3 separate regions of the Homo sapiens genome follow, and all the other regions are linked to region 3. Evidence: fine-mapped expression QTL. A gene starts in region 3. Each other region holds a variant in brackets. All regions are shown on one strand. Distances are between the middles of the regions. Region 1 overlaps PRPF6 (pre-mRNA processing factor 6). Region 2 holds the start of TCEA2 (transcription elongation factor A2). Region 3 holds the start of C20orf204 (chromosome 20 open reading frame 204).

What was found.
Region 1: its variant is fine-mapped to the expression of C20orf204 in aorta (GTEx, PIP above 0.99).
Region 2: its variant is fine-mapped to the expression of C20orf204 in whole blood (TOPMed, PIP above 0.99).

What each region holds. Positions count from the first base shown.
Region 1 is chr20:63,983,539-63,991,710 of GRCh38, reverse strand. It overlaps PRPF6 (pre-mRNA processing factor 6), which reads right to left. Exons shown (of 21, transcript NM_012469.4): 3 at 6,686-6,804. Among named protein-coding and RNA genes, the nearest start is that of PRPF6, 6.5 kb to the right of the region's middle. The variant C/T (reference allele first, on the strand shown) is at 4,971.
Region 2 is chr20:64,055,647-64,063,817 of GRCh38, reverse strand. It overlaps TCEA2 (transcription elongation factor A2), which reads right to left and starts at 620. Exons shown (of 10, transcript NM_003195.6): 1 at 434-620. The coding sequence starts at 505. RefSeq lists a silencer at 360-719 and enhancers at 1,050-1,099, 1,110-1,239, 5,361-6,048, 6,049-6,738, 7,429-8,118 and 1 more. The variant G/A (reference allele first, on the strand shown) is at 4,900.
Region 3 is chr20:64,032,007-64,040,178 of GRCh38, reverse strand. C20orf204 (chromosome 20 open reading frame 204) reads right to left here and starts at 3,997. Exons shown (of 4, transcript NM_001387010.1): 1 at 3,853-3,997; 2 at 1,977-2,252; 3 at 1,731-1,883; 4 at 1,178-1,557. The coding sequence starts at 3,855. The coding sequence ends at 1,420. It overlaps PRPF6 (pre-mRNA processing factor 6), which reads right to left. Exons shown (of 21, transcript NM_012469.4): 20 at 8,135-8,172; 21 at 7,079-7,338. The coding sequence ends at 7,186. RefSeq lists silencers at 925-1,204, 1,395-1,714, 1,815-1,884 and enhancers at 2,530-3,123, 3,555-3,654, 3,124-3,717, 4,605-4,834.

The DNA of each region.
Region 1 (8,172 bases), 48 kb after region 3:
TTAAGTGATTCTCGTGCCTCAGCCTCCTGAGTAGCTGGGATTACAGGCATGCACCACCACACCCAGCTAATTTTTGTATTGTTAGTAGAGACGGGGTTTCACCATGTTGGCCAGGATGGTCTCGATCTCCTGACCTCATGATCTGCCCGCCTCGGCCTCCCAAAGTGCTGGGATTATAGGTGTGAGCCACCGTGCTCGGCCAAGTACACTACTTTTTAAAAACATTTAATTTAATGGCTTTCTTCATGGGTCCGTGTCACCTGCTGTTTTTTGTTTTGTTTTTGTTTTAGAGACACGGCCTTGGTCTGTTGCCCAGGCTGGAGCACAGTGGCATAAGCATAGCTCACTGTAGCCTCTAATTCCTAGGCTCAAGCGATGCTCCTGCCTCAGCCTTGGGAATGTAGCTGGAACTACGGGCATGTGCAACTGGCTAATTTTAATTTTGTTTTTGTAGAGACAGGGTTTCACCATGTTGCCCAGGCTGGTCTCGAACTCCTAGACTCAAGTGGTCCTCCTGCCTTGGCCTCCCAAGGTACTAGGATTACACATGTAAGCCACTGCACCCAGCCTGATGTTTTTTAAAATGCATTAACCCTGGAGGTTCCAATCAATTTTTAAAATGTAGGGCTGAGTGTAGTAACTCATGCCTGTAATCCTAGCACTTTGGGAGGCCAAGGTTAGGGGAGGCAGGTGGATCACTTGAGGCCAGGAGTTCAAGACCAGCCTGGGCAACATAGACAAAAATTAGCTGGGTGTGAGCCTGGCGTGGTGGCTCAAGCCTGTAATCCCAGCACCTTGGGAGGCCAAGGCAGGCAGATCACAAGGGCAGGAGTTCAAGACCAGCCTGGCTAACATTGGTGAAACCCCGTCTCTACTAAAAATACCCATCTCTACAAAAATCAGCCGGGCGTGGCGGTGCATGCCTGTAATCCCAGCCACTTGGGAGGCTGAGGCAGGAGAATCACTTGAACCCTGGAGGCGGAGGTTGCAGTAAGCCGAGGTTGCGCCATTGCACTCCAGCCTGGGCAATAGAGTGAGACTCCATCTCAAAAAAAAAAAAAGAAAAAAGAAAAATTAGCTGGGTGTGGTAGCACGTGCTTGTAATCCCAGCTACCTGGGAGGCTGAAGCAGGAGAATCGCTTGAGCCAGGAATTGAAGGTTACAGGGAGCTATAATCAAGCCACCGCGCTCCACCCTGGGTGACAGAGTAAGATCCTGTATCCAAAAAAAAAAAAAAGTGAAATGCAATGCCATTCACGTTTAATTACTATAGGTATAAAATTTATGCACAATGATTTAATAACGAGCTTCTAAAAAGATGTCCAGGCCAGGCACATTGACTTATGTCTGTAATCCCAGCACTCTGGGAGGCCAAAGGATATGGTTTACATCTGTGTCCCCATGAAATCTCATGCTGAATTATAATTCCCAATGTTTGAGGTGGGGCCTGGTGGGAGGCCACTTGAGTCTTGAGGGCAGACCCCTGATGGCCTGGTGCTGTCCTCGAGGCAGCAAGTTTACATCACGTAAGATCTGGTTGTTTAAAGTGTGTGGCAAGACTGGGCACGGTGGCTCATACCTGTAATTCCAACACTTTGGGAGGCTGAGGCGGGTGGATCACTTGGGGTCAGGAGTTCAAGACCGGCCTGGCCAACATGGTAAAACCCTGTCTCTACTAAAAACACAAAAATTAGCCAGGTGTGGTGGCGCGTGCCTATAATCCCGGCTACTTGGGAGGCTGAGGCAGAAGAATCACTTGAGCCTGGGAGACTCAAAAAAATAAAAAATAAATAAAATTCCAGAAGAACTATATTTTACTATTCTAAAATTATCTTCAAAAAATAAAACATTCTACATACATCACAGGAAGTTATGATTACATGTATAAAAAGCAACAGAGCTGGGCGCAGTGGCTCACGTCTGTAATCCCAGCACTTTGGGAGGCCGAGGTGGATGGAGCACAAGGCCAGGAGTTTGAGACCATCCTGGCCAACATGGTGAAACCCCGTCTCTACTAAAATACAAAAACTAGCCAGGCGTGGTGGCAGGCACCTGTAATCCCAGCTACTTGGGAGGCTGAGGCAGGAGAATTGCTTGAACCCGGGAGGCAGAGGTTGCAGTGAGCCAAGATAAAAAAAAGCAACAGAAAGAGGAAATGAGCCAAAATGTTAACTGTTACTTTCTAGACTTATGAATAAATGTTATGCTTTTACCCATACTTACTCTTATTTTCCTAATATTCTATAATGAGAACTTTTTATTTTTTTCCTTTTTGAGACAGTCTCTGTGGCCCAGGCTGGAGTGCAGTAGCGCACTCTTGGCTCACGGGAGCGAGCCACCACACCTGGCTTCCGTTCGTTGCCTGTGCTTGTGGGGTATTACTCAAGAAATCTTTGCCTAGTCCAATGTCCTGTAGAGTTTCTCCAATGTTTTCTTCTAGTAGTTTCAGCTTGAGGTCTTAAAGTCTTTTAATTTGATTTTTGTATGTGGTGACAGAGAGGGGTCTAGTTTCATTCTTCTGTATATAGATATCCAGTTTTCCCAGCACCGTTTATTGAAGAGATTGTCTTTTCCCCAATAAATATTCCTGGTACATTTGTCAAGAATGAGTTCACTGTAGAGGTACCTATTTGTTTCTGGGTCCATTCTGTTCCATTGGTCTATGTGTCTGTTTTTCTGCCAGTACTATGCTGTTTTTGTTACTACAGCTCTGTAGTATAATTTGAAGTCAAGTGTTCCCCCAGTTTTGTTCCTTTTGCTCAGGATAGCTTTGCCTATTCTGGGTCTTTTTTGGCTCCATGTACATTTTAGAATTATTTTTTCTTTTTCTTTTTTTTTTTTTGAGACGGAGTCTCACTCTGTTGCCCAGGCCGGAGTGCAATGGCACGATCTCAGCTGACTGCAACCTCTGCCTTCCAGGTTCAAGTGATTCTCCTGCCTCAGCCTCCCAAGTAGCTGGGATTACAGGCACCTGTCACCATGCCCAACTAATTTTTGTATTTTTAGTAGAGATGGGGTTTAGCCAGGCTGGTCTCGAACTGCTGACCTCAAGTGATCCACCTGCCTCAGCCTCCCAAAGTGTTGGGATTACAGGCATGAGCCACTGCACCTGGCTATTTTTTCACTATCTGTTAATAATGTCCCCAGTATTTTGATACGGATTGCATTGAATCTGTAAATTACTTTGGGTAGTATGGATATTTTCTTTTATTTTAAGATGGAGTCTCACTCTGTTACCCAGGCTGGAGTGCAGTGGTGCAATCTCAGCTCACTGCAACCTCGACCTCCTGGGTTCAAGCGATTCTCCTGCCTCAGCCTCCCAACTAGCTGGGACTACAGGCGTGCACCCCCACACCCGGCTAATTTTTGTTTTTTGGTTTTTTTTTTTTTTGAGACAGAGTCTTGCCCCGTCACTCAGGCTGGAGTGCAGTGGTGCAATCTCAGCTCACTACAACATTTGCCTCCTAGGTTCAAGCAATTCTCTTGCCTCAGCCTCCTGAGTAGCTGGGATTACAGACGTGTGCCACTACACCCAGCTAATTTTTGTATTTTTAGTAGAGACAGGGTTTCACTATGTTGGTCAGCCTGGTCTCAAACTCCTGACCTCAAGTGATCCACCCACCTCACTCTCCCAAGGTGCTGGGATTACAGGCGTGAGTCCCAGCGCCTGGCAACTTTTGTAATTTTTTTAGTAGAGACAGGGTTTCACCACGTTGGTCAGGCTGGTCTCGAACTCCTGACCTCCAGTCATCCACCTGCCTCGGCCTCCCAAAGTGCTGGGATTACAGGCGTGAGCCACCGTGCCCGGCCATTTTTGTATTCTTAATAGTGACAGGGTTTCTCTTTGTTGGCCAGGCTGGTCTCAAACTCCTGACCTCAGGTGATCCACCCACCCTCAGCCTCCCAAAGTGCTGGGATTACAGGTGTGAGCCACCACACCTGGGGGCATAGCCTGCAACTTTAATCAATTTGTCAGTTCCAATAGTGTTTTGGTAGAGTCTTTAGGGTTTTCTAAATATAAGATCATATCATCTGCAAACAAGGATAATTTAACTTCTTCTTTTCCAATCTGGATGCCCTTTTATTTATTTCTCTGGTCCGACTGCTCTAGCTAGGACTTCCAGTACAATGTTGAATCACAGTGGTGAAAGTGGGCATCCTTGTTGCGTTCCAGTTTTTCCCCATTCAGTATGATACGAGCTGTGGGCCTACCATATGTGGCTTTTTTTTTTCTTTGCGACACAGTCTCATTGTGTTGCCCAGGCTGGAGTGCAGTGGCACAATCTCAGCTCACTGTAACCTCCACCTCCTGAGTAGCTGAAATTATAGGCCTGAGCCACCACACCCAACTAATCTTTGGATTTTTAGTAGAGACAGGGTTTTACCATGTTGGTCAGGATGGTCTCAAACTCCTGACCTCAAATGATCTGCCTGCCTGGGCCTCCCAAAGGGCTGTGATTACAGGCGTGAACCACCCCATCCAGCTGTATATAGCTTTTATTGTGTTATGCTCCCCCCCCCTTTTTTTTTTTTTTTTTTTTGAGACAGGGTCTCGCTCTGTGGCCCAGGCTGAAGTGTGGTGGTATGATCTCAGCTCACTGCAACCTCTGCCTCCTGGGCTCAAGTAATTCTCCCATCTCAGCCTCCTGAGTAGCTAGGACTACAGGTGTGTGCCACGAAGCCTGGCTAATTTTTGTATTTTTTTGTAAAGAAAAGGTATTACCCTCTTGCCTAGGCTGGTCTCAAACTCCTGAGATCAAGCAGTCCTCCCGCCTCAGCCTCCCAAAGTGCTGGGATTACAGACGTGAGCCACCACACCCAGCCTGAGGTATGTTTCTTCTATATGCAGTTTTTTGAGAGTTTTTATCATCAAGGAATGTTGAATCTTATCAAATGCATTTTCAGAATCAATTAAAATGATTAGGCCGGGCGCAGTGGCTCACGCCTGTAATCCCAGCACTTTGGGAGGC[C/T]GAGGCAGGTGGATCATGAGGTCAGGAGATCAAGACCATCCTGGCTAACACAGTGAAATCCCGTCTCTACTAAAAATACAAAAAATTAGCCAGGCGTGGTGGCGGGCAACTGTAGTCCCAGCTACTCAGGAGGCTGAGGCAGGAGAATCACTTGAACCCAGGAGGTGGAGGTTGCAGTGAGCTGAGATTGCGCCACTGCACTCCAGCCTGGGCAACAGAGCGAGACTCCGTCTCAAAAAAAAAAAAAAAAAGATCATATGGTTTTTGTCCTTCATTCTGTTGATATGATGTATAACACTGATTAATTTGCATATGTTGAACCACCCTTGCACTTGTATCCCCTGGGCAAAATGCCACTTGGTCATGATGAACGATCTTTTTTTTTTTTTTTTTTTGAGATGGAGTCTTGCTCTTGTCTCCCAGGCTAGAGTGCAGTGTTGTGACCTCGGCTCACTGCAACCTCCACCTCCCGAGTTCAAGCGATTCTCTTGCCTCAGCCTCCCAAGTAGCTGGGATTATAGGCGTACACCACCCACCATGCCCGGCTAATTTTTGTATTTTTAGTAGAGACTGGGTTTCACTAGGTTGGCCAGACTGGTCTTGAACTCCTGACCTCAGATGACCCATCATCCGCCCACCTCGGCCTCCCAAAGTGCTAGAATTACAGGCGTGATCCACTGCGCCCAGCCGATGAACCATCTTTCTAATGTGTTGTTGAATATGGTTTGCTAGTATTCTGCTGATTTCTGCATCAGTGTTCATCAGGGATACTGACCTAACATTTTCTTTTTTCAGTGTGTCTTTGTCTGGTTTTGGTATCAGGGTAATACTGGTTCTGTAGAATAAGTTTGGAAGTATTCCCTCCTCTATTTTTCAGAATAGTCTGAGTAGAATTGGTATTAGTTCTTCTTCAAATATTTGGTAAAATTCAGCAATGAAGCAATCAGATCCTGAGATGTTCTCTGCTAGGACACTTTCTGTTACAGCTTTGATCTCATTACCTTTTATTGGTCTGTTCAGGTTTGGGATTTCTTCATGGTTCAATCTTGGTAGCTTGTATGTGTCATTTAACATCTTTAATTCATTTGCAAATTACTCAACATATAATAATCAAGTCAGTAGGCCCTTTTCATTTCAAAGATGGTAACCCTGATGTATCGTAAAAGTAATCCACAAAATTCTGCTGATTTCTGGAAAAACTTAAGAGTTCTTAAGCTCTCCACTGCAGCCCCCAGGCCCTAAGGCTGTTCTGTAACAGCCCAGTGCTTATCCAGGCATGGCTACGACAGACCAAGACCCTCAGGTGGCCTAAAAGCTAAGCAGACACACATACTCTATTGCAACTTTTCTCCAAATATAAAACAATTCAAAACAAAACTTTTTTTTTTTTTTGAGACAGGGTCTCACTATGCCAACCAGGCTGGAATGATCATGGCTCACTGCAGTTTCTACCTCCTGGGCTTAAACGGTCCTTCCACCTCAGCCACCCAAGTAGCTGGGACTACAGGTGTGTACCATCTGGCTAATTTTTAAATTATTTGTAGAGATTAAGTCTCCCTACGTTGCCCACACTGGTCTCAAACCCCTGGGCTCTAGCTATCGTCCTACCTCAGCCTCTCAAAGTGCTAGGATTACACACGTGAGCCACTGCGCCTGGCCACAAAACTTTTTTTTAAACTTGGATAAATATTGTGAAAGGCAACAATTTCTTTTACCGTCTTTCTTTTCTTCTTTCATCCATCCTTTTATCCAGGGCTGCATAGATAGCATCTGCTTCCTCATCATCTTTCTCGTAGGGTCCACTTGAGAAGAGGCTCCCAGCATAGCCATTAAACTGAGAAGCAAACAACACGTGTAGAGGTCAGCTTTTCCTTCAACACCATCCCCACCAGCGAAACGGAGATCTCTACTTGTGAAATACTTGCTAAATTATTTTCTTCAGCCAACGAAGCCAAATCAAGGGACAGTCTACCATATAACTGGTGACTACTCTTCAAGCGTCAAGGGCATGGAAGACAGAGGAGACCCCCAATTGGAAGGGACCAAGGAGACATGACGAAATGCAATGGGGGATCCTGGACTAAGCCTAAGCCAGAAAGCGGACATTCATGGAAAAACATGAAATGCAAATACGACTGACAAATTAGTTAATAGTACTGTGTCAATGTTAACTCCTTCGTTTCAATAACTGCACTAAGGTCATGTAACATCGGGAGAAGCTTGGTGAAAGACATGCAGAAACTTTTTTTTGGGGGGGCACTATTTTTGCAAATTCCTGCAAATTTAAAATTATTTCAAAACTAATTTTTTTTTTTTTTCTGAGACAGAGTCTCGCACTCTCGCCAAGGCTGGAGTGCAGTGGCGCAATCTTGGCTCACCGCAACCTCCGCCTCCCGGGTTCACAGCATTCTTCTGCCTCAGCCTCCCGAGTAGCTGGGACTACAGGCACATGCCACCATGCCCGGCTAATTTTTGTGTAGTTTTAGTAGAGACGGGGTTTCACCATGTTAAACAGGATGGTCTCGATATCCTGGCCTCATGATCCGCCCACCTCGGCCTCCAAAAGTGCCAGGATTATAGGTGTGAGCTACCGCACCTGGCCTCAAAACTAAAATTATTTTTAAAAATTTTCCTCAGAGGAAAAATGTCATCTGTTAGAAGACAGTTAATCGGTATTCAGTCAGCTGAAGTTTTTCTTTAGATGTCTGTTTAGAGGGCAATCACTAAAGCTAAAAAAAGCAAATACTATCACCAATTCCACTTTAAGTTTTTATCATTAAAGACTGGCAGCCAGGCGCAGTGGCTCACGCCTGTAATCCCAACACTTTGGGAAGCCGAAGCGTGCGGACAACCTGAAGTCAGGAGTTCGAGACCAGCCTGACCAACATGGAGAAACCCTGTCTCTACTAAAAATACAAAATTAGCCAGGCATGGTGGCGCATGCCTGTAATCCCAGTTACTTGGAGACTGAGGCAGGAGAATCGCTTGAAATGGGGAGGCAGAGGTCACAGTGAGCTGAGATCACACCACTGCACTCCAGCCTGGCCAACAAGAGCGAAAGTCCGTCTCAAAAAAAAAAAAAAAAAAAGACTGGCCAATAGGAAATGCCAAGGCAGTGGTCCTAACACCTGCAAGAACATCTCTTCCGACAAGAGCGAAATTCCATCTCAAAAAAAAAAGACTGGCCAATAGGAAATGCCAA
Region 2 (8,171 bases), 24 kb before region 3:
TGGAGGAAGGCAAGGGGCTGGCGCGGCCCGCAGAGGAGGCCCGAACACCCCGGGGGCTCCGAGAGGCGGGACAGGGCCAAGGAAGGAGTCGACGGGCCAGGCTGGGGGTCTGGAGTTAAGGGACAGGGAAGGGTGCGGAGCCTGTGACTGCGGGCGAGGGAGGGGTCTGAGTCCAGAGCGGGTGGCTCTCCCGGGACAAGGTCCAGGCCTGATCGCGGCCTCTGCCGGGGTTGCGGGAGTGAACGGCAGGGCTGGCCCGGGGCAGGGGTCTCGGCCACGGGTGGGGGTCTCCCCTGCGTCCCGGTTAGTCTCTGCCGGGGAGGGGTCTCGTCCTGCCCCTCAGGTCGTCTTCCGGCCCTAACGGGGGTCGGCGGGCTCGACGGGGTCTCGGCGGGGCGGGGTTCCCGGGGTCCTGGCGGCCCGCGCCCCTCACCGCGCTCTTCTTGGTCACCATCTTGTCCAGCCTCCGGGCGATCCGCGCAATCTCCTCTTCCTTGCCCATCATCGCCTCAGGAGCAGCGACCCCCGCGCCCGTCGCGCCCGCCTCCGCAGCCGGGCAGGACCCCGGCCCCGGCCGTCGCCACCTCCCACACCCGCCGCAGCCGACGCAGCCCCGCCGCGGACGACAGACCCCCGGTTCAAACCCTCGGCCCCGCGGCCGCGCGCGGCATCCTAGGATGCGTAGTCCACGCGCCCGCCTGCCGCGCCCGCCGCGCCCGCGCTCTGGACCACAACTCCCAGGCGCCACGCGGCGCGCACAGCCTCCTGGGAAGTGTAGTCCTGACCCACCGTCGCCAGTGACTCGTGATCCCACAATACCCCGCGAGGGAGGCGCCCCGGGCACGCCCCTCCCAGAGCTCAGACATCCCGGAGCGACCGGGCCCCAGGAGGCCCAGGAATCTGCTCCCTTCTCTCCTCCTGCTTCGGGCCTTGCTGTCCCGCGGCGTCCTTCGGTGGGTGGCTCAGGACCCAGTGCCCTCAGCCCTTCTCTTGGGCCCCGCTGAGCCCTGCGCGCGCCCCACTTGGCCTAGAAGGCCGTCCCCAGCCTCCCAGAGCCCAGTTTGGGTCATTCGGGCTTCTGAGTAGAGTTACTTCTTCAAGAGGCCCGCGCACACTGGGAGGCCTCTTGTGGGGCCCTGCAGGTGTGAGCGCGCGGTAGCTGGACGTGGCGTCTGGAAGGGGCCATTGCTGGGGTTCGCGAAGTGCGGGGGCCTCTGCCGAGGCTGCGTGGGCAAGGCCCCTGCCTGCAAAGTCAGCTACCAGGGAGCAGATTCTGGGCTCTGCACGTTGACCACTGTGTCTCAGTCTCCCCACCTGTGAAACTGGAGTTAAGTGTCCGCCTCACAGGGCTCCCGTCAAGATGATGTCAGCTGATTCACATCACATGCCTGAGAACAGAGAGGGGATGGAGCATGACAATTAGTGTTCATTGACATTGTTGTTGGAGGTCCCTAGGTAGGGCCAGACTGCAGGCAGCCAGAGAGATGGCCCAGGCCTAGGGAGGGTTGAGGACGGGGACAGGTGCAGGGCCAGCATCCCCACCACTGCCTGGCAGCTCCCCAGTAATGCAGATGCTGGGTGGTTTCCTGGAGAGGGCACAATCCTGGGGGAGGGTGTGGATCAAGGAGCCTGTAGTCATTCAAGTTCAGGCCAACGAACTATGAGGCCAGGTGGCAGGTGGAATGGGCTGAGCATTTCTTGGGCTGTCTGTGGCACTAATCACATATAACTGAGCTTCCCCGCAGCCAAAATGAAAAGGAAAATATGGTCAGTTAAGAGACTCATCTTAGCCGGGCAATAGTGGCTCATGCCTGTAATCCCAGCGCTTTGGGAGGCCCAGGCGGGTGGATCACCTGAGGTCAGGAGTTCGAGACCAGCCTGGCCAATATGGTGAAACCCCGTCTCTACAAAGAATACAAAAACTAGCCAGGTGTGGTGCCGGGCACCTGTAATCTCAGCTACTTGGGAGGCTAAGGCAGGAGAATTGCTGGAACCCGGAAGGCGGAGGTTGCAGTGAGCCAAGATAGCACCATTGCACTCCAGCCCTGGCCAACAACAGCGAGACTCCGTCTCAAAAGAAAAAAAAAGAGAGAGAGAGACTCATCTTGGTTGGGCACAGTAGCTCACCCCTGTAATCCCACCACTTTGGGAGGCTGAGGTGGGCGGATTATCTGAGGTCAGGAGTTCCAGACCAGCCTGGCCAACATGGTGAAACCCTGTCTCTGCTAGAAATACAAAAATTAGACCGGGCATGGTGGCTCATGCCTGTAATCCCAGCACTTTGGGAGGCCAAGGCAGACGGATCACGAGGTCAGGAGATCGAGACCATACTGGCTAACACGGTGAAACCCCATCTCTACTAAAAATACAAAAAATTAGCCGGGCGTGGTGGCGGACGCCTGTAGTCCCAGCTACTCCGCAGGCTGAGGCAGAAGAATGGCATGAACCCAGGAGGCGGAGCTTGCAGTGAGCGGCGATCATGCCACTGCACTCCAGCCTGGGCAACAGAGCAAGACTCCATCTCAAAAACAAACAACAACAAAAAAAAAATTAGCCGGGCGTGGTGGCACATGCCTGTAATCCCAGCTACTTGTGAGGCTGAGGCAGGAGAATCACTTGAACCCAGGAGGCGGAGGTTGCAGTGAGCCCAGATTGTGCCACTGCACTCCAGCCTGGGTGACAGAGTGAGACTGTCTCCAAAAAAAAAAAAAAAAAAAAAAAGACTCAGGCTGGGCGCGGTGGCTCATGCTTGTAATCCTAGCACTTTGGGAGGTGGACTGCCTGAGCTCAGGAGTTTGAGACCAGCCTGGGCAACAGGGTGAAACCCCGTCTCTACTAAAATACAAAAAAACAAAAAAAAATTAGCCGGGCATGGCGGCATGCGCCTGTAGTCCCAACTACTCAGGAGGCTGAGGCAGGAGAATCGCTTGAATCCGGGAGGCGGAGCTGGCAGTGAGCCGAGATCATGCCACTGCACTCCAGCCTGGCAACAGAGTGAGACTCGTCGCAAAAAAAAAAAGCTCAATCATAGGGAAAAAGCATAGAATTCCTTGTGAGGAGCAAAGCCTTTCTAAGACAGAGGCCCCGCGATATTATATTATTATTATTATTAATAGATGAACACGGTTTCCATACTGACTGATTCTGCCCCTCACAGTGAGCTGGGGACATAGCTTCCAGCCTAGACCATCCAAGCAAGTCCTCGTGGTCAGAATCCCATGGTTTGGGCATATATGAAGACTTGAAGGGTCCAGCCTCATCAGAGGCACGAGGGGAGGCTAGAGCCACCCAGCCTTCAACCACTGTCTCAATGGCTGACAGCCAGACCAAGGAGCTGGTCAGGGTCCTGTAGAAGCCACACTGGAACTGCCCTTGTGCAGGAACCCCAGAAAGTTTGGCTTCGGAGGTCCGGGCGGCCAGGGTTTCAAAGCTGGTTCCCACCGTCCACAAAGACACTGGCCACATCCATGGAGCCTGCCTGGCCAGACACATAGGCTTCTCCAACGGCCGAGTGTGAGTTGATTTGAAGACCACCGAAAGGAAGCCAGCCCTCAAGCTGGGGGTGGGGGGGAGACCTCCAAGTATCAGGACTGCAGATCCTGAGATGCTGGTAAGGGCTGCAGCACAGAGAGGCCCCTCCTGGGCAGGAGGTGCAGCCCAGACAGCACAGAGGAGAACTAACCCCAGAGAGCTGCAAGTTCCTAAGAGTGGAGGTGCAAAGGAGAGAGGGTCAACGTCCCAGAAGCATCAAGGAGCTGCCAGAGGAGGCTGTGCAGTTGTGCATACGCCGCAGTCCCAGTTGAAGTGTTGGTGGGGCGGGGTCTGGGGTATCAGCACGGACCTCTGGAGCAAGTCACTATCAAGGAGCCAGCAGTGAGGCCGCTCCCCACCTGATTTCTCCCTGGGATGGACAAGCGCAAGGTTCTGGGGAAGGAGTGCACACAGACGCCCCCGGAAAACCAGACTAGAGACCCAGCCTTGACCCTCCCCAGGCCGGCCCAACCAGTGGAGGGACTTTGCATGAGGGATGCTTTTAAATATCTGGTTCATCTGAATGTTTTCAGCCACAAAGATCCCCTAGCACGGTAACTCTTAAAGCATTACCTAGGGAGCTGGGAGCTGGTCGAGAACAAAGACGACTGCCCCCTTGCACTCCCCGCCCCCACCAGGGGCTGGGGCCCTGGGGTCTCTGTCCTCTGTGATACCTGTGTGCAGATCAGAAGTACAGGCCACAGGCCAGCCAGGATGGATAAGGAACAAGGGGTGCCCAGAGGAAGGGAGAGGCACAAGAAGGGCTGGGAGTTTCTTTTCAGAGGTGCAGAGAGTGTCCCAGAGTTGGGAGGGAGAGGGATGTGGTCTGGAGTGTGTATTGAAGCCTCAACAACCTTACCAAGCTGCAGGGAGGGACAGAACCCACTGCAGGACAGGGCCTATAGAGACGATGGGGTGGGACAGAGACATACTGGGCCTGGGAGCTGGTGGGGGGCGGTCGGGCAAGATGGGAGGGAACAGTGCGAGGCGTCTCAACAATCCAGGGGGTCAGAGACCCAGAGACCAAACCCCTGACAGAAAATAAACTGGTGGGAAGAAACCATCATCTCCTTTTTTTTTTTTTTTTTTTTTTGAGACAGAGTTTCACTCTTGTTGCCCAGGCTGGAGTGCAGTGGCACGATCTTGGCTCACTGCAACCTCCGCATCCCAGGTTCAAGCAATTCTCTTGTCTCAGCCTCCCAAGTAGCTGGGATTACAGGCATGCGCCACCACACCCGGCTAATATGTTTGTATTTTTAGTAGAGACGAGGTTACATCATATTGGTGAGGCTAGTCTCAAACTCCTGACCTCAGGTGATCCACCCGCCTCGGCCTCCCAAAGTGCTGGGATTACAGGTGTGAGCCACC[G/A]TGCCCGGCCCATCATCTCCTTTATACCGACCTCTAGCAGAAAGGTGTCGTTCGTTCAGTTATGAACGAGGCCATGAACCAAATCTGGTCAGCTGGGCCCGTGGCTGACCCGGCACAGATGGGAACTGCCTCGCACCCCCACACTCGCTGCTGCTGGGACTGCAGAGGCTGTTCAGTGAGTCACATCTTGTTCAGCAGATTGGTAAAGAAGCACTTGGGTTTTGATATCACACTTTAAGAAAATATTTGCATAACTGTGTGTTGGTAGAACTGGCTGCCTTTATGACCCCGTGAATTCCACCTTGTGCTCTGTGTAGGAGGGGCCTCAACTAGGACTCCAGGAACTGGGACTCGGCCCTTGCTGAGCCTGAGTGGAGGTCCCACTCTGGGCCCTGTTTCCTCCTCCATGAGATGCCAGGTGGTCTTCTACGTCCTGGGGCCCTGGGCATGGCCACACAAGACAGAGCTCGTGAGGAGCCTGACATGTCTCAGTGGGTCCCAGTGGAGGCCCACAGAGGCTGCAGACGGGGAGGTCAAGATGCTGTGGCGTCTTAAGGACAACGGCTGGCAGGTCGGGGATCCCTCAGGAAGGGGTGTCAGCCGTGGGCCCAGCCTACGGGGCTGCATTAGGGCACGTGGGGAGCCTGGTCGGACAGGTGTGGATGGGGTCACTGGTGGCCTGGTTCATGGCAGGGGCAGGTGATGGAGAGAAAGGAGCGGACGGGACAGGCAGGGAAGGGGGTTAGCAGAAGAGGTCGGGTGCCTCTGACCTGCGGGCCGCAGCCACTCCGCTATGACAGGAGCCCCGAACCCTGACATGCTCTAGTCCTGCGTGGAAGCAACTACTGCAGGCGGAGAGGTGTAGGCCCATCCTGGTGATCAGGGAACCTGCAATCCGGTGGGATGGTCCCGCCCCCGGGCAGAGGCAGGTGACTGGCCCCAGAGCCTGTGAGGAACAGTGGCCTCTAGGTGGCAGGAGTGAGCCACGGACGGGTGGGCCTCACTTCACCACCACCCCACCCCCAAGCCCCAGGGAGGTCCAGGTGGTTCCCAGCAAGAGCCACAGCTGCCCCCCAGGACTGTGAAGTGGCCGAGGTGAGAAGGTGGCCAGTCCTAGAGAGTGGCCTCGTTTGTGAGGGCTGTGGCGGCGACCAACCCTGAAACTCCCCAGTGCCCCTGGTCCCGGGTCCCTCAGGAGCTCTGGACTTCTGGGACCTTGCTCAGAGCATTCTCGCCCCCCAGCAGACCCCTCCTGGAGCTTACCGACCTCCGGACTTCCTCCTCCACGGAGCTTCCCCAGCAAGCTGCTCAGGGCCGCCAGACGCTCCCGGGCCCTCAGAATTTGCACCCAGAGGCTGACAGCATCAGAACCATCGATTCTCCTGTGGGGCCTCGCCGCAGGGTGCTGCTCCAGCCCCTACTCCCGCCCTCGGCAGCTGAAGAACTTTCCCTCCCCTGTGCGCAGGCACACATGCACACGCACACACGCAGGCGGGAGCCTCGCACACACGGGGAGCCACTGCGGACTGGTTGGCGAGTGTCTGTCTCTCACCCGGCCCAGAGGCAAGGCCTGGATCCCTCAGCCGCGTTAGGGCTACGGTTAATGTTCGGTTTCGGTTAAACCCTGAGAACAGGCGGAAATGCACGTAGCCTGAAGGGTGGCTCACAGCGGAGGCAGTGCCCACGGAGGAGAGGGACGTTCACTCACCCGCTCCAGGCGCTGGTCCTGGGAGCCACAGCCACATGACGTGCAGGTGGAGGGGAGAGGCCTCCTGACTAGGAGCTGCCACAGGGTGAGGAGTGCCTCACTCCCCTTCACGGACCCAGCGGCCGCACGACACCAGGCTAGGTCTCTGTGGTCACCTGCAGCCAGCCTCACCGGGGGCCGAGCCCCAGCAAACAGGAGGGTTCCATCTCCTCCTCCAGGGTGTCCTCCACACTCGACGTCTTTATGGACAGGGACATATGGATAGGCCTTTAGGAATTCTCTGTGGGCAACGGGGCCCTGTCCTGAGGGCTCTAAGGGGGAGATGTGACCCACCTTGGAGGTCTGAGGGGGCAGCCCTGGCCCCAACAGGCGTCTGGGGAGAAACCCCTGGTCCACCCCACAGGGCCAGCCGCACCTTTGGCCCAAAGGCCTGCCCCTCCCCCATCCTGAGTCCAGGAAACGTCGGAAACTCAGGCCATTTATTTTTCTATTTGTGTCCCCTGCCCCCTGCCCGCCCAAAGCCGGCCATGACCCCAGTGGCCGCTATCCATGCTTCCCCTCTGGCTGAGGCAGCGCCGTGGTGGGAAGGCTCCCGCTGCCAAACTCACACGGAGCCCCCCTTGCTTCCTGCAACCACAGAGCGGGGGCTGGGGATCCTGCAGCCCCAGGAGCCCCCACCCCCTGCCACCCCATGGGCAGCCCTCCCACAGCCCAAGCACCTAGGAGCCGTCTCTGCGCCCCTTTCCATCAGACCCTCCAGCCCACCTTGGGGGCTCTGCCGAGCTGTGACCCCAGTGGACCCCACCCAGGCCTCCCTTGGATGCCCCCACCAGCAGGGCAGCGACGGGGCTTAGGTCCAGCAAGTGCTCCCCTGTCCCATGCGCCAGCAGAGGAGGGCAGGGGATGGGGACTGGGCCCACTGCTCCTGGCTATGCCACTGCAGCACCCGGCTCTCTGGACCTCAGTCGCCCAGTCTGTAGAATGGGAAGAGCCACCTGCCCAGGGCAGCGTCTCTCGGAAAGTCCCCAGCCCAGCCCATAGCCTTGGCCCAGTCCCAGCTCCCTCCCACAGAAGCAACGCTGGGGGAGGCAAGAGGCATCCCCAGAGGCCAGTGGCGGCCCTGGCGGCCTGCTCCAGGCTTGCTCTAACAATGCACTTCCCCCACACAATTCCCAGAAATGCAGCCCTGCCAGCCCGCCAGCCTGGCGGCCACTCCACCCTCCCCTTCCCCAGAGGCCCCAGGCAGCCGTGGGGTCGGGGCTATGGGTGAAGCCTAGAGACCTGACTCACAGGGCAGCAAAACCAGGGTTCCCTGAGGCGGCACCTCCCAGGGGCCCAGGCCTCCCAGAGAGAGACCAGGGAGACTCCTGGGGCAGCCAGATGGGGTCTGAGAGCAAACCTTGGCCAGGCTCCCGCCGCGGCAGAAGCAGAGCCCCCTGCCTTCTGGCAGGGGACTGCCCGTCCCTCCTGCCCCGCACAGCCCCGTCTTCACGTAGCAGCTGAGCTGAGGCAGATCACACTCCACTCAGAACCTCCCAAGGTCCCACCTCACTCAGAAAATGCA
Region 3 (8,172 bases):
TCCGCTGCCTCGGGATAAGTCCAAGCACCCCCCTCAAGTGCTTTGGCTCCAGCTGGGGCTCCTGCACCCTGCATCTCCCCCTCATCCCTCCCACACTTGCCCCCACTGGCCCCCACGGAGCAGGCAATGCAGAACTAGGGCTGGGAATGCTTGCTAGGTGTTTGTGCTCAGAGCATGGCCAGGGACTCTGTCAGAAGTGCTAACTCTGCAGGGGAATCCAAGGCTCTGAAGTCCAGGAAGCTTGGCCCCCAGCCTCCAGGCAGGGGACATGTGGCAGATCCCATGCCCTGGGCCTGGGTCTGAGGCCAGCTCTTACATTGCTGGCTGTGATTTGGGGCAAGTCTCAGCCTCCTCGTGCTTCAGTTTCCCCATCTATAAAACAGAGACAGTAGCTCCCGTTGCACAGACTAAATACATTAACACAGAGTGTGGGGCTGGGTCAGGGTCAGCTTGGGAGGTTACTTCTTTCTTCTGCTGCTGCCCCTGATCCCACAGAATGCCAGAGGCACAGCCTGCTCGCGGCCTTTCCGGGAAGGGGAGGGTAACAGGTGTCAGGTACTTTACCTCCCCTGCTCCTCCATGGGCCGAGATTGGGGGAGGGGGGTGACAGACTCCCAGACCTGCGCATCAGATGGGGGAACCAGGGGACAGTCCCCCAGCAAATGGAGGGTTCCAGGGGCCAGAAAGCGGGCCCCAGCCTGGCCAGTCCTGCAGAGGGGGCTGGGCAGTCTCTGAGCCCAGGCCGTGGTCACCCCTCCGGAGGCAGCAGGAAATAGCCTGGCCAAGCTCACAGCCAAGGCCCGCAGCTCCCGCTTCCCTTCGGGCCCGTTTCCTTTATCCGGTTGTTTTGCTCCGAATTCACCAAGTCCAGCCTTCCCCTCCCCTCAATTTCCACCCCCGGCCCCGGTCCAAAGTGGAGCAGGACGGATACGTGACGTTTTAGGGGCCCCAGGAGTCCCCCGCTCTGCCCTCCGCCCAGCCGGGAGCCGCTGACAGAGCCGGAGCGCGCCCAGCGTCCCGCGTCCGCCCTCTGCTGCCCGAGGCTGGGAGCGGCGGCTCCGCCCCGTCCAGGTGCCACAGGAAGTGCGGGTCTCCGCATTCCCCCTCCACCGCCCCCCGCCACCGAGGCGCAGATCCCGGGGCGGTCCTAGGCCCACAGAGAGGCAGGCGAAGGGAGTGCCGGACCCGCAGCGCCAGCTCCGTTTATTGAGGCCTTCGGCGCGTGGAGGGCGGGCCTCCTCCGTGACCCAGCGGCGGCCAGGCGCGCTCCCTTCTCCAAGTCCTGGGCCCTCCGGGGAGCGCGGGCTGCGTCGAGCGAGGGGCCGAGGTCACCAACAAGTCTACAGAACGAGGCGCGTCTCCAGGCTCTGCCGCGGCCCCGCTGGTTCTCCTCCCCGCGCAGGGCCAGGACGGGCCGCGCTAGGAGTCCCTGGAGGCCGGGGCGCGCAGCGCGAAGAGCTTCTCCCAGCAGGTGGCGACGGCGTCCAGGGCGCGCAGCAGGAGCTGCCTTCGGCCGCCGCGACGCCGGGCAGGGCGCATCTTGGGCCGCCGGCTCCGCTGTCGGGGACAGGGCGGTCAGCGAATGCGCACGGCCCCCGCGCCCGGCCCGGCCCGGGAAGGGAGACGCGACCCAGCCCGACTTCAGCCTAGGGCCGTGGAGCCCCGGGACGCGCGGCGGCCCTGTGGGGGTTAAGGGAGGTCTGGCTCTGGGTGCACTCAGGGACGCACACCTGGCGCAGCGTCCTGCAGTGGCGCCGCATCACCGCCTCGGTGCGCACAGCCACGGTCCAAGCAGCTCTCTCCAGGGCCCCGCGGCGGCCCCCGGCCACCGCCCCGCGCAGGGTCCGACCCAGGGACGAGATGGACAGGAGGATACTGTGCTCCTGGGGAGGGAAGGGAGGAAGGCGGGGTGGGGGTGGGGGGAAACTGAGAGAGGAGCAGGCCGGCGAGCTTGGGTAGGGGCGCCTCCTCCATACCTTCTGGGCGCCACAGGAGGCCCGAGGCCGTCCCCGCCGTCCCGAGCTCCCGGGTCTAGTCAGGTTTTTCTGTATGAAATGAAAGTGTCTGGAGCCTGGCCTGGTCTTTTCGGCCCCCGCCCCGCCCCACTTCACGGCGGCCTGCAGATCCTCGAAGATGATGGCGCGATAGTGGCGGAGCACGTCGGGGACGCTGCAGGCCGGGGAATAGGCGCGGCTTGGCGCGGTCCCCAGCAGCGCCAGCAGGAGCGCCCAGAGTGCAGGCTTAGGGGGTACCTGGAGGAGACAGCAGGTTGGGGTTAGGCCTGGGGGGTGTTCCCAGCACAGGGAGCAGCCAGCCCACCTGCACTTTGTTTCCGTAGAAGCCCCACCCCCTGCCCCACCCCACGGGATCTCTGAGCGAATGAAATGGACGTGTCACCAATCAAGAAAGGCTGTAGGCACAGGCCTGGCGGGATAAATCAGGAGACACAAGAGATAGGTCTGCAAACCAGACAGTTCTATGCTCCCTGCAAAGATGTGAAAGGGGTGAGTGATGTCGGCTGGGAGGCGATGTCACTGAGTCCTGAAGAACCCATCAGGAGATAGAGGGGGCAGGCCCAGAGTCAGGAGAGCCTGGCTCTGTGGTCCACGTGGGAGTGGGGCCAGCAAGGGGTGGAGCACCCTCAGGACCGCACAGAGCAGGGCCCCCCACCAGCCCCGTACAGCTCTAGTGGGGCTGGTCTGCAGGCTCTTGGGGGTACAGTAGGAAGTTGTCCCAGTACAGCCTGTCTCACTCATGGCCATGCCCATTCAACTCCACACCTCCCATACTGGCGCCCTCTGGGTTAGCTCACAGAGACGTGGGAACTGGGGACTCCTTGTACCCCCAACCCAACTGGGGCAGGGGCTCAGAGCTCCAAGCCACACCCTATTGGAAGGGGAAAGCTAGGGGGACACCCAGAAGCTATAGAGGAGGAAGGAGCCACCACATCCAGCCCCAACCAACAGTCGCAAAAGGCCCCTCTGCCTGTACCAGCCGCCCCACGCCATCCCTCCGGGCAGCCTGTGCCACAGGCCTCCCCCGACCCAAAATGGAGGGCCTGCGCCCGCAGGGATAAAGCCCAAACATCAAGGAGACAGCTGACGGCCCCCAGGTTCCCAGCCACCCAAAAGGGGCCAGCCCCAACCCTTCCCCTGGGCCCCCAGGATGGAGTCAGACAGCAGATCTAGGGCTGGAAATTAATCATGCGAACCCAACCAAGATAAGAGGACTCGACTCGGCTTCCTAGCCCTGTCAGGGGAGCCTGAACAAGCAGCACCCCAACCCTTGCATAGAGCTGGGGGCCTGGTGGGCGGTGGCAGCTCCTGCTCAGAGCACAAAGCAGCAATGGCTGGAAGAGCAGATGGCTTGCTGTGGCCCCTTCCTGAAACCTGACCCCCCCAACCACACACGCCACAGCCAACTTGGTGGGCTCAGAATTGCCACGTCATTCCCTCTGCCTGCTCTGGGTCAGAGGTCATAGCGAGAACCAGAGCCTGACTCCTGAGCAGGCCAGCTGGAGCTGCAAGGATGTCCAGCACCTGCTGTGTCCCACCCAGGTGGGGCAGACTGGCTGCCCTGGGAGTCCCAACTGGCCTGTTAGTACCACTTCCAGGCTCAAGCCTCAGCCCAGCTTAGAACAGGGTTGCCCGGCACCCAGGAGCCCCCCTCCCCCAACTGCCAGAAGCCAGGGCACATGCACCCAGTGCCACCCACAGGGACGCAGTGACCAGAGCCAACCGGAGATTTCCTGGTGGGGCTCAGGGGAACAAGCAGTGTCTCCTGAGCTGTGTGTACCCCCAGCCCCTCCACCCAAGTAAGCCCCCTCCCTAGAGGAGGCCCACAGCTGCTCACCATGGGCCTTTCAGGGTCTTGCCCTCCCTCACTCCCGCCAGCAGGCCACGCACATGATCCTGGGGTCCTTGGGCAGGGTGTGCACTGCCGCACCAGGTCCAACACCAGCCAACCGCTTCCCTGGACAGGCTGCCTGGAGGACTGCAGAGGGGCAGGCCAGGCGGAGGCTTTTGAAGTTGGCTCCTCCAAGCTGAGGGAGGGAGCAGGAGAGGGAAGGAAAGGCCACGCAATCCCAGCCCTGCCCCCTCCCTCTCTCCACTCCCTATCACTTCAATTAACCTGGCCCTGGAGCTGGGCAGCCACCTCTCCCAGGGGATCCAGGGCTACTGTGGGTCTTGGATTAACTTGTCCGTCCCAGAGATACTGTTCTGTCAAGGAGGGGTGAGGCGCCGCGTGGGCTGGGGCAGTGCAGGGCCCAGCTGGTGGGGGAGGGGAGCCAGGTGAGACTGGGGCCGACTCTGTGGCCAGCAAGTGCTGCCTCTCCCAGGGATCTGGCTGATGGGCAGAGCTGGTGGGAGGCCCTCATCCCCTCCCCAGCTGCCGGACCTGCAGCCTGACATCCAGGGGGCCCTGCCCCAGCAGGTCCCAAGACATGGGGCTTCCCGGGCCCCCGCTGCTGGCCCGGCCTCACTCCTCCTGGGCTGAGGGGTCTCTGGCTGAAGAGGTAAGTCTGAGGCTGTTACTCTGCTGCCTGCCGTAAAGATACCCAGGAGCAGGGTGGGCTCCCCCGATCCTTGGCTGCTGTCGCTTCTGCTGTGGTCTGGGGCACTCTGGTTAGCAGCCTGACAGGCAGTGGTGAAGAGGCACCTCAGAACACGAGCAACCTCTGAGGCACAACTCATCTTTGCAGGCTGAAAAAATTTCAGTTGAAGACAAGTTAAGGTAGTTTCCCAGGGGGAAAAGTCAGTGACTCACAATAGTCAAGAACAGACCACACAGGTGACAGGAGTCCCCTAGGATTGTAACACTGCATCTTTACGTTTTTGCCTTTTCCGTGTTTGGATGTGATTAAATGCTGTGACAGGCTGTGCAGGTCTGCAGCCCAGGAGCCCCAGGCTCTGGCACCCGGGCACACAGCCTGGGGGTGCAGGAGGCCGTGCCTGCCAGCCTTGTGTAAATGCACTCTTTAATGTTTGCAAGACGACATCACCTAACGAGGTTTTTCTCAGAATGTATCCGCACTGTTAAGTGGCGCACAACTGTGGTTTGGCCAACTCAAAGCATTTGAGAAAACCCCACACAGGCAAGAAAGAGGAGACACTCACACATGGACAATGTAAGCGCTCCGGAACTTTCCAAGGGCCCTGCAGGAAGTATCCCCTGAACATGGCCTGAAACATTCTTTTCTGTGTGACCCCTCAATGCCCACCCAGCACTGGCCATTTCAGCTCTGAGGTCAGAGAAGGGCTTCCTTCCTACGCCTCGGTTTCCACATCTGTACAGGGCCAGGCTGGCTCACAAACTTCCTGGGCCTCGGTTTCCACATCTGTACAGGGCCGGGCTGGCTCACAAACTTCCTGGGCCTCGGTTTCCACACCTGTACAGGGCCGGGCTGGCTCACAAACTTCCTGGGCCTCGGTTTCCACATCTGTACAGGGCCGGGCTGACTTCACAAACTCCAAAAAGCTGCAGGACTCTCTTCATCTTCAGAATAAATGTTGAGGGCTCCCTCATGCTTCCGTCTCTCCATGAGGGATCAAAGGAAACTCCTCCACAAGTTCCAGTGAAAACACTCATGAAGCTCCTGCAGCTGCTCCTCAGGACGGGGCGAGAGGAAGGACTTCCACATTCCAACGATTTGAGCTGGACCCCAGGTTGCCTGCCCAGCAGAGACCAACCAGCAGTTCCTGACCCCATACAGGGGTGGCAGGTCCCTTGCCCGGGATTGACCATGTCCTCAAGGTCCCCAGAACCACAGGGAAGGGGGACCCACACCCACATTCTGGTCTACCAGGACCGCCCCACGTGCAGGCAGGGATCTCCCACCCCAGCCATTCTCACTCGTCAGGAGCAGGGCAGGCAGACCACAAGGCCTAGCACAGGCCCCCATGTGCAGGTGGGCAGAGCTGTGGGTCAGTGACTGACCACCACCACAGGCCCTGCCATCGGTACCACAAGACAGGCCGGGACCCTCCAGGGCTCCCCTCTCACAAGGAACATCCAGGGACAGCTGCTCTCCAGCAGCCTCCTCAGCCCACATGACAGCGCCCTCCTCCCCGCCCGCTGGCCTCAACGACTGTCCACCCACACCCTCTGGGCCAGCCATGACCTCCAGCCAGATGTCTCTAGCCCCGGCCTACACAAGAACCAGCTGGCTCCCAACTGAATGCACACACATGATCCCAGGCCTGAGGACGTCCTTTATCCTTACACAGCTAAGGCTGAAGAGAAGCCAAGTCTCTCGGGTGATCAACGTTCAACCTAGAGATGAGAACCATCACTGTTCAACCTGGAGATGAGAACCATTACAAGGGCTTTAGGGTTAAACTGCGAATGATAAATTAGCAAAGATAAACTCACGGCCGGGTGCGGTGGCTCACGCCTGTAATCCCAGCACTTTGGGAAGCTGAGGCAGATGGATCACCTGAGGTCAGGAGTTTGGCAGCGGGCGCCTGTAGTCCCAGCTACTCGGGAGGCTGAGACAGGAGAATTGCTTGAACCCAGGAGGCAGAGGTTGCAGTGAGCCGAGATCGTGCCACTGCACTCCAGCCTGGGCGACAGAGCGAGACTGTCTCAAAAATAAAAAAATGAACTCACCTCCAAAAGAAAGAACGCCTCTTACTGGTGACACTGTCACTCAGCACATGCCTGAGGGGCCCGGGAGGCTGTGTGGAGAGGCCCTGCGCAGAGCTGGGTTCTCCTGTTTGCACTCAGACCCCAGGGAGGCCCCAGCTGTCCCCTGACCAAGACCCTTGCAGGCGGCTGCCAGGCTCCTGCGAGCACCTGCGTCCTGCATGCAGCTTGGTCCCCACTGTCTCCAGCTGTCCTCACAGGGCTTTTGGCCAGAACATCTGCACCCCTACCACCTTCTCCACAGTCTTGGGGAACCCGGGCACCTCCACAGTGCCTCCTCTGTGAGACACCGGCTGTCTGCAAGAGGCTTCTGTCCAAGCAAGGGCGATCACAGCCACCCCAGGACGGCATGGGACAGGCCAGGACAGGCCAGACTGGGGCAGCAGAAGCAGGAGCCAGAGAAGGGCCCCAGAGAAAACCAGCAGGCTGCCTGTTCTGACACGAGACATAAAAACTTTTAATGAAGGAGGACACAGCTCAGAGCCCTTCCACATGCGGCCCAACCCTGCCCCACGGAGACCGGCCATGGCAACCGCTCAATCAGAAGGTGTTCTTGATGCGGCCGGCCACCAGCCTAAGGATGTCCCCGATCTTCTTCTGCCAGTTGGCGATGTCCTTGGACACGGCGCACCACAGCTCCCCATGCCGAGGCTCTGCACTCTCACAGCGCTTCCTCACCTCCTCCTGCTGCTCCTGGGGGGACCACAGGGCACGTCAGGCAGGGGTCCTCCCACGCTACTCCCCGGACCTCGCCTGCTTCTCGCCTGGCCCCTGCAGACCTGGCCCTGGCAGCACCAACCCCAACTGGCGGGCCAGAGGGCACAGGCCCTGCACCGGAAGGCAAGGCTCTTTCAGGTGTGTTCCTCAAAGGAGCCCCACCTCCTGAGGAGCATGGACCCCACCAGCCTCAGCCCACAGATGAGGAACTGAGCCAGGCTCCCCATGTCTGTGCCTCACACAAGTGCTCACGTCTGCCTTCTCCAAACAAGGAGTTAGGGTTCACGTGGGCTGGCAACACTTTCCAGGGAGGACCAGGACAGCCTGACTGCCTCCAGCACAGCTCAGACAACGCTTGGCTCTAGCGGGGCGGGTGGGAGCAGAGGGGCTGCTGCCCAGGCTGTCCTAGAAAGCCACACTCAGGCTCAGGCCCAAGAAAAAGGCCAACTCCATTCCCATTCCTAAAGTGAGCCCAGGCTCCAGCCAGCAAATAACTCGTTAAAATACTCCAGCAGACAGGCCACCCTAACGGACAGGGTGCCTCAATTCCAGGGTGTGGAGCTGTGAGGCTATAACCAGAAAACGGATGTGGAGGCAGAGACTGCCTTGTGGGGAGGTGTCGAGGATTCTGTGCCCCACACACCCGGTCCATCCTCCCGACCCCGGGCAGAGTCACGCTGGCCGTGGCCACCTCCTAGAGCCCCCAGGGCTGGCGGAACTCCCCGCCACAGTCCCAGAAGGCACTGAGCGGCGGTCTGTCGAGGGGCCTCACCTCAGTGCCATGCTGCAGCTCAAACTTGTAGAAGAAGG